Linked DNA regions of Homo sapiens: region 2 is linked to region 1. Evidence: fine-mapped expression QTL. A gene starts in region 1. The other region holds a variant in brackets. All regions are shown on one strand. Distances are from middle to middle.

Evidence for each region. PIP is the estimated chance that this variant, and not a neighbour inherited with it, causes the effect. A credible set is the group of variants that fine-mapping cannot tell apart.
Region 2: its variant is the best candidate, but not a certain one, in a credible set for the expression of IPMK in whole blood (INTERVAL, PIP 0.75).

What each region holds. Positions count from the first base shown.
Region 1 is chr10:58,266,095-58,270,461 of GRCh38, forward strand. IPMK (inositol polyphosphate multikinase) reads right to left here and starts at 1,800. Exons shown (of 6, transcript NM_152230.5): 1 at 1,328-1,800. The coding sequence starts at 1,517. It overlaps CISD1 (CDGSH iron sulfur domain 1), which reads left to right and starts at 3,068. Exons shown (of 3, transcript NM_018464.5): 1 at 3,068-3,210. The coding sequence starts at 3,180. RefSeq lists enhancers at 971-1,080, 1,035-1,329, 2,774-3,330, 3,176-3,225 and silencers at 1,581-2,090, 2,796-2,855, 3,446-3,495.
Region 2 is chr10:58,343,270-58,347,661 of GRCh38, forward strand. All of the region lies in intron 1 of UBE2D1 (ubiquitin conjugating enzyme E2 D1), which reads left to right. Among named protein-coding and RNA genes, the nearest start is that of UBE2D1, 10 kb to the left of the region's middle. The variant T/A (reference allele first, on the strand shown) is at 2,039.

The sequences.
Region 1 (4,367 bases):
AGCAACTTGAGGACGTTGTTTCTTTACCTCGGTATACTAAAACAACTGTCAATTTTCACTATTCAATATTTCCTGAGTGTTACTGATTCCCAGTCCGTGCACAAGGCTATGAGAGAATACAGATTCTCTCTCTAACATCTAGGAATTCACAATTCAGTGGGGAGAAAGGCACACAAACAAAGTAGGTAAAAATAAAAGTAGTGGAAAATGTCGCTTTGAGAAATAGCATATACTCAAATTAATACTTATCCATTTTCTAAAAGCCTTGAGTTGTTTCAGCAAACACAATACATGGTGAAAAAATACAGTACTCAAAGGAAGAACTCTTGGTTTCACAATTCTTAACATATTGTAACGTGACTTCAGGCACGTCATTCTTAACCAGGGTTGGCCTTAGTCACCTCGTCTAAAAATGTCAGTATTAGCAACCTAAACCCGAATCGTTTTACCGGCATAAACTAAATTGTCTCTAGTGGCTCTTCCGGGTCAAAGATCCACAATACTCACATACTCATCCATCAGATTACCCCAGTAATCATGGCCCAGGGAACCACTACGGGTAAACTAGATGAATTAGAGTTCCTAAACTGAGATAGGCTTTAAACTTGTGAACTCAGAAAATGTATTACAGTGGCCATGATACAGCCTTATAAAATGAACAAGAATAGCTGAACATTTTGTGTATCATTCTGGTACAATATGCGTGTGAATTTCCCACCAGGAATCCGAGTTTCTGCACTACTGGAACCACGCCTCCCAGAGAAATCAAGGAGACACCAGAAAAACCTCCTCAAGGGACAGGGAAAAATCACGGACAAGCTTTCTTCCCTTCTCACCTCCCCCTAAAAAAGCCCAGTGTTTTTCTTCCCCTCCAGCTATGCAGCTGCACCCAGCAGAGAAGTACTAGATTAGCATCATCTGCATTTCATTCCTTTTCTTTTGCAATAGCTACTCGCCTATAATAAACAGACCTTGTGCTCAAGGGAGAATTTACTTCCCCGTCCAGTAAAAATGAAGTTCCTTATTTTCACTAACAACGCCGTCTCCAATCAACACCCAACCTCCCTGGGGGGTGGGTGAGACCAGACACGCCTCTCCCTGCCACCCGTGCTGCAAGCCTGACGACCCACACCCTAGGAATTGTCCCACTTTCCGAGCCCCTTCTGCTCGAGTGGCGAGGCTTCGGGGGACAGCGGAAGAGGCCAGGGATTTGGCGTGCACACCAGGGGGGCGTCCAGGCAGGCCCGAGAGCGCTAGGCTGCCTCCGCTGACAGGGGGCTCGCACAGGCGGAAGGGGAGCGGCGAGACCTATGCCACCCCCACTTACCCACTTTGTCCTTCCCGTACATGTGCCCGGCCACCTGATGCGAGAGGGGCACGCAGCCGTTGAGGAAGCGGAGTCTGCCGCCCGCCGGCTGCGGGGTGCCCTCAGGGGTGGACTCGATCGCCGGTGAGGTCCGCATTTCTGGGGGGCCCGGCGCCTCGACCCGGAGGGGGGATGGTGGCTCTGTTGCCATAACGGAGAGCAGAAGCGGTAACGGCAGCGAGAGTAGGAAAAAAAATAGGGCGAGGGAGGGGGCGCCGGAGAACCCGAGGGTCGCTCAGGCTCGGGCGCGAGGAGGCCCGGGGGTTCCCGCGGCTGGTGCCCTCTGAAGCGCGGGGAGGGGGCCCATGACGCCGCCGGGGCGCGGGCGCTCCTCTGCCCAACTCTCGGCGGAACGCGGCTCCCGGCTCCTGTTCCTCTGCCGCCGCAGCCGCCGGCCCCGGCGCTGCCCGGTAGACAGAACCGAGCCGAAGAACAGCAGCAGCGGCGCCCCGCGCTCCCTGGGGCCCTGACGGCGACGGCGGNCCCACCTCCTGCGCCCCCGCCCCCTCCCGCCGTCCTCCAGTCCCCTCAGCTGCCGCGCGCGCGTCACCGCCGCCCGCACCGCCGCTGCCGCCGCTACTGAGCATGCCCAGAGGCCGTCCAACGGGATTCCGGCCCCCCAAGTCAGCGGGGCGGGCGCGCCGTGCTGCCAGGACCTGGCGACGGCGACAGGGATAGGGCGAGCGCACCCCTGTTTCTTCTCACCCCCACCCCGCGGGCATTTCGAAGTCACGCGTGCTGCTGTGGCCTCATTCATTCAACACGCTTCTCAGCGCGTCAGCTCAGAGAAGCCAGGGACTTCTAAGTGTGCGGAGCAGTCCGGCAAGAATTGGAAGGCACTAGCATTGCCAAGGGTGGCTCTAAAGGCCACCCCTAACTGCACTCAACTCCCTCCAACTCCCACCCCGCACGAAAACAACAGAAGTAAAAGCAGGCAGCTTATTAGAGATGCGCCTTCAAAATACCCTTCGAGTTAATCTCAGCCCCCCTCCCCGGATTGCTGTCTCTAAACCGCTCTTACCAAAAAGTAAAACACATAAAAATAAAATAAAATTGGAACCGACACGAATTTCAGACTGTAGAAGACAGAGAAAACTTCTAATTTTTTTAAGTGAACATGTTTTTTAAAGAAAGGAGCAAGTTTTTTCTCTCCCACTCGACCTTTAAGATAGTGCAGGTTCCAAGGTCCTGAGTAGATAATTATATCAAAAGCAGAAAGGGATGGACACCGGTAGCTACGCGAGGTTCTGGAATGGGACTCAGTCATTGATTCCTGTATGTCCGCCGCTGGCATGTTATATAAAAGCTGGACCTGGCCTTGAAGGTAAATCGTCACAAGCCCCGAGCAAGAAAAACTGGGGTCAAATCTTAGGTATCTGATTAAAGTAAGTGTCCTATTAACACCTGTTTCTGCCCCCAGAAGCCCACACACCTGGAAGAGACGTAAAATCTGGCCTGGATTCCCTAATCCCAGGGCCCTGCCCCTCGGCTTCAGGGCCCCGCCCCTCGGCTTCAGGGCCCCGCCCCTCGGCGTTGCGCAAACTCTGTTGCTACCTAAGTCTTTTCCTCCTCCCACCTCCCGTAGCTGTCAAAATCCGGAGTCCAGACTTCCTTATGGCCAGGACAGCTCCACGCATGCTCAGCACCTACCAGGGTCGAGCTCACACACGTGCCTACGACCCGCCGCGGCGCCTGCGCGGTAGCATCGCGGAGTCGGTGCTTTAGTACGCCGCTGGCACCTTTACTCTCGCCGGCCGCGCGAACCCGTTTGAGCTCGGTATCCTAGTGCACACGCCTTGCAAGCGACGGCGCCATGAGTCTGACTTCCAGTTCCAGCGTACGAGGTGAAGTGGGGCCTGGGAGCGGGTGAGGCTGGTGAGGCTCAGCGGTTGCCGCGCCCGCAGTTCGACTGGGTTGTTTTACCACTGCCCTACGCGCCCGCCGGTCCTATAACCTTGAGATGCAGAAGGGCAAGCGCTCGGCCCGGCTGCGGGCTCCGGGCCGGACAGCGAAAGGGGGCGAGGTCAGGGATGGATTGATGGTTTGGGGCCATGCCGGACCAGAGTCCACGTTTACCCCAGCTAGCCAAACCCTAACACCTAATGACCGCGCCGCTAGCTTTTCTTGTTCACCCCTAAGACGCTTTCATGTCCTTAAGTCACATAGCCTGGAAAAGAAGGAAAGGTGGGAGAAAACAACAGCAAACCTGTTTGCCCTTCTCATGTTTCAGTCAGCGTCGGGCCACAACGTCGATTTCCTGCAATCCTGAAGCATTGCGTGACTAATCACATCTTAGTTTTGCAGATTTTTTTTTAAGGGATGAAACGCAATCCGAGGTTTTCAGTTTTCCCGGTTTTTTATTATTCCTCTGGCATCTGACACTCGGTGGCAGTAGTCCAGGATAAAGGATTGAAAACTGCGTTCGTTGAACCTTCAGCTTTCTGAGTCTTCTTTCCCCTGTGCTAGTACCTAGCGTTTGGAAACAGTATTTCGCAGAAAGTCCCGTTATAATAAAATTAAGAGACTTTATAAGCAGTCATTTAATGTGGAGTTTCACTTTATAACCATTCTTGGTGATGTTATAATTGTTAATATAATACTGTGTACCAGACACACAATATATGTGATCTTTGCCCCTCTATAAAACGCCACTTCGCAAGGTTTTGAGTAAAGGCAAAGAGACTGTCTAGAGGTTAATTAAAAATACGTTCAGTAAATATTGAACATCTGTAGTGCCAGGTAATAAAAAGTCCCTACTAACTTGAGCCCTAATTTTTTAATAGGTAGTTTCCAAAAATTGGAGAGTTCCACTTCTGTTGACAAAATTTACCTGGCTAAGGGTGATATTCCATGACATTTCGAAGTTACTAATGATATAGAGATTATTATTTGCAAAAATTATATTAAAGGATACTCATCTTGAGACTTTTTTTAATAGAGGCAGCTTGGTGCATTTAAAATAGGGTGTGATTTTTGTTTTTGTTTTTTAAAAAACTATATT
Region 2 (4,392 bases), 77 kb after region 1:
TTTCTCTTTTATGAGTTTCCAAACAGTTTAGTGAATAATAAACATCCACTTTTTAAAATGGAATAGAAAATATTAGTGCTTTGCATATAGTAAGGGTGTTGTTTCATGAAATTTGTTTTAGTGTGTGTGTGTGTACTAGGTTGTAATGTAAAATCTTTTTCATATTATAAATTGCTGTAAGGAAAGCTGGAAAATCACTGTTCCATAACATAAGATCCTTAGGTAAAATTAATGTTAAAAATACATGCCATACAACCATACATATACATGTATACATATATAGGGAGAGCAAATGAATACATATACACATACACAGAGACACACAAATATATTGATACACATATACACATAATGTAAACTGTTCTAGCCTTGGAAACGTTTGCATTTGATACAGACCGTATGCATTGTTTTCTTCTACAAGTAGCAGCATTTTAGTGACTGATGTACAACCATAATATTCAAGAATAATACTGGATGATACTAACAGAGAGTAGAGAATTTATTATGAAACACTCAAGTGCCCACTATATGCCAGTTATTAGGTATAGAGCTGTAAGAAGCAATATTTAATAACAAATATTTGGTAGGTATTGGTAGGCATGTTCATGTTTTACACACGTTTTAATAAATAGGCAGCTAGGTTTTCTCTCTTTTTTCTTCCATCTTTTTTTGGTTACTGTAAAGTAAATAGTAAGTTTTGATAATGGAGCACTCAAAATGCTCCATTTGCATATTTTATGTGAAAATTCTATTTATTTAAGTTGTGTATAATTTCCTGTAAAGTTTTTCTTGACTCTCAGAGTGTCTTTAAACACAACGCTCCTGAAAGCTTATGAAATAGTATTCGTTTCTAACCTTTTATATGATATAAGCTCCTGAGAAAAGATAAGAATTCCTTCTCATTCCTTCACTTATCACACTTTTGTTTCTCTGGAGCATAGCTAAAAATGTGCAAATGGCCTTAATACAGTACTGGAGCATTGTTTGCTTCAGTGTTGGTTGAAAATAATGTGCTCTAGCTGTTACAGTGTTGAGGTGAGTATTGAATTGGGGTGGGAAGAGTGCTGGAGTAGAAGTCAGATGGTCTGTCCCTTTGTCCTAGTTTGGCTTTGTGACCTTGGCCAGGAGACTCAGTCTTTATACTCCTCACTTGGAAACTTAATGGATTGAACTTGATACTTTCTGTCATCTCTTCTGAATCATAATTTTAGGCAAACCTAAATAATGTATTTGCTGTTTTTTTTTTTGCAGCAAACAACAGTGATCACAAAAACAAACACTGAGCTTTGGCACTGTGCTATGGAGCTATATTAGACTTGACTTAAAATTCCATTTACTTTGAAATATCAGATTTGAAATAAATGTTGACATCTCTTAATGTATAAGGTCAATAAATCTTATTCTCTAACTAAAGAGCAATTATTTATGATGCAAATAAAATGTATTTCTATTATTGCACTGGTAACATAACGTGGTTCTCTAATTCCATTTAGCTTTTCTCTATTTGTTAGCTTTTGTACTTAAGATTGTTTTATCCACATATTTAGACAACTGCCATACACAGCTGCACAGCTGCCTTATAGGTAATAGTTTTTTTGTTTTTTTTTTTTTTAATGACAAAGTCTGGCTCTGTCACCCAGGCTGGACTGCAGTGGCATGATCTCAGCTCACTGCAACCTCCACCTCCTGCGTTTAGGGGATTCTCATGTCTCAGCCCCCTGAGTAGCTGGGTCTACAGGTGTGCACTACCATGCCTGGCTAATTTTTGTATTTTTAATAGAGACAGGGTTTTGCCATGTTGTCCAGGCTGGTCTCGAACTCCTGACTTCAAGTGATCCACCCGCCTTGGCCTCCCAAAGTGCTGGGATTACAGGTGAGAGCCATGGTGCCCAGCCTATGTAATAGATTTTTAAGATTCAGTGCTGGGCACGTGGCTCATGCCTGTAATCCCAGAACTTTGGGAGACCGAGGCAGAAGAAACACTTGAGCCCAGGAGTTTGAGACCATCCTGGGCAACATAGTGAGATCCCATTTATTT[T/A]AAAAAAAAAATTAAAAAATAGCTCAGCATCGTGGCACGTGCCTGTAGTCTCAGCTACTTGGGAGGCTGAGGTGGGAGGATCACTTGAGCCCAGGAATTCAAGATTACAGTGAGCTGTGATTGTGCCACTGCACTTCAGCTTGTATGACAGCAAGACCCTGTCTCAAAAGATTCAAGTTAATGCATTTATCAAACACCTTCTGATACAAGGCATATATTAAATGCAGTAAGGAGATGCTAGTTATGTAGAAAAACAGGTATCACCATTATCTAAGAAATTTAAAATTAATAAGTGTAAGAAAAGTCCTGTAACAACTAGATGGATTTAGGAAAGTACCAAACAGAAAATACAATATATTTAAACAGGAAGGGAGTCAAAGATGGGAGAGGCCAAATTTATTTGGGAAAATCAGGAAAAACTGTGGAGAAGATGGAATTTGATATAGGTTGGGAAGACTGGATAGCATTTTGAAAGACTTAGGGGAGCCAGGCTTGTAGAGGAAGCTACGGAAATGAAGACACTAGAATATGCTTGGCTTATTTGGGAAGGAGCAGATAATCCTGCTTTTGGGAATCGTTCAGAAACAGTAGACCATAAAGCTTCATATTGTAGACAACCTTGAAGGCCTGTGCTGAGAAATATGTACTTAATGCAGAAGATTGGGGAAGCCATTGAAGGTTTTTGAGTAATAGGAGCTAATACTTTTTTTTTTTTTTTTTTTAGACGGAGTCTCACTCTGTCACCCAGGCTGGAGTGCAGTGGTACAATCTTTGCTCACTGCAACCTCTGCCTCCCAGGTTCAAGCAATTTTCCTGCCTCAGCCTCCCAAGTAGCTGGGACTACAGGCGTGCACCACCATGCCCGGCTAATTTTTGTATTTTTTAGTAGAGACTGGGTTTCACCATGTTGGTCAGGCTGGTCTCGAACCCCTGACCTCAAATGATCTGCCCGCCTCAGACTCCCGAAGTGCTGGGATTACAGGCGTGAGCCACCATACCCGGCCGGAATGAACACTCTTAATCATAGGCATCCTTGCCCTCATCAAACTCAAGATTGTTTACTGTTTGTCATTATAATTTTGATTAATGTCATGAAAAGGGATGCATGGAGTATTCTAGGAATATAGCAGGGACCCATTGAAGGTTTCAGGGAAAACCTGAAGGCAATGATGTTTAAGATGAGACAAGAAAGTAAAAGTAAAGTAGATAAAATGAAAGAATGAGGGAGAAAGTGTGTTTTGGGGAGGGGAGGTGATTAAGTATCTTCTGCCGAAAAGGAAGCCATGTTTGCAACTAAAGGCAAGATTAAAAGTCATGGCTGGTGCAGAGAGCACTGGGGAAAAGTGTTGCAGATATGACGCTAGAAAGAAGTCACGTCTTGGAAGGTCTGGCAAGTCATTTTAAGGACTTATAAGTCTTACATGAAGGTGAATGGAAAACATCGAAGAGGTTTGACATGGCTCTTCAAGAAGATGATTTTGGCAGCAGTGTATAGGTAGAAAAATAGGAGGACAGTAGGTAAGTTAAGATATTGCACTTAAGTGAGATCCAAAGAGGGTCTAAGCTACAGTGTTAGCAGAGGACATTGAAAAGAGGGATATATGACAAAAATTACAGGGTGTTTGTACCACCTGGCCCTTTTGAGTTGGTGTGATCCATCTATGCCTACACCTTCTTGGCCTTTCAAGTCAAGTATCACAGGCTCCCTGGTCTAGGCAATCTCTTCAGATTCCTCCTTCTGTTATCCAGTCTGGTCCCAGATATTAAGATTGTCTGCCTGGCTGGAACCTTTGGGTTCTTATCCTAAACTACCTCTCCTCTGGCTTATATCAGACTCTTCTACACGTTGGACCTCAGCTGTCCTATTTGATGGGCCTTCTGGGACCCTTTCAGAGGGAGGGATCTAGACAGAAGGAGAATCTGAACAATTTGGTACTTTTCAAATTGTGAAGGAGTGGGATGTGAAGAGAAGAATTAGATGGTAACTCCAAGGTTTAGAGTTTGAATTACTAGAACGAATAAATGCATTTTTACTGTAAGCCTTCATAAAACAGATTCAAATACAGCTTTTACTTGGCTACTTTGGATTTGTCTAAAATCGATTTTTATTTATGTAATTCCTCTGATGGAAATATTATATGTAGAGAGTGTGATCAAGAGTCCGCCATCTAAACAGGAAGCCATGTTTGAAAGTAGAGGCAAGATAGCATTTTGGGAAATTGAATCATTATGCCTGGTGCAGAGAAAACTGGGGGAAAGTGGTTGAGATGTGAGGCACTGAGTAAATAATGTCTGTAATTCTGACCTCAAGCTTTTATTCTAAATTACACTCTTTTTTTTTTTTTTTTTTTTGC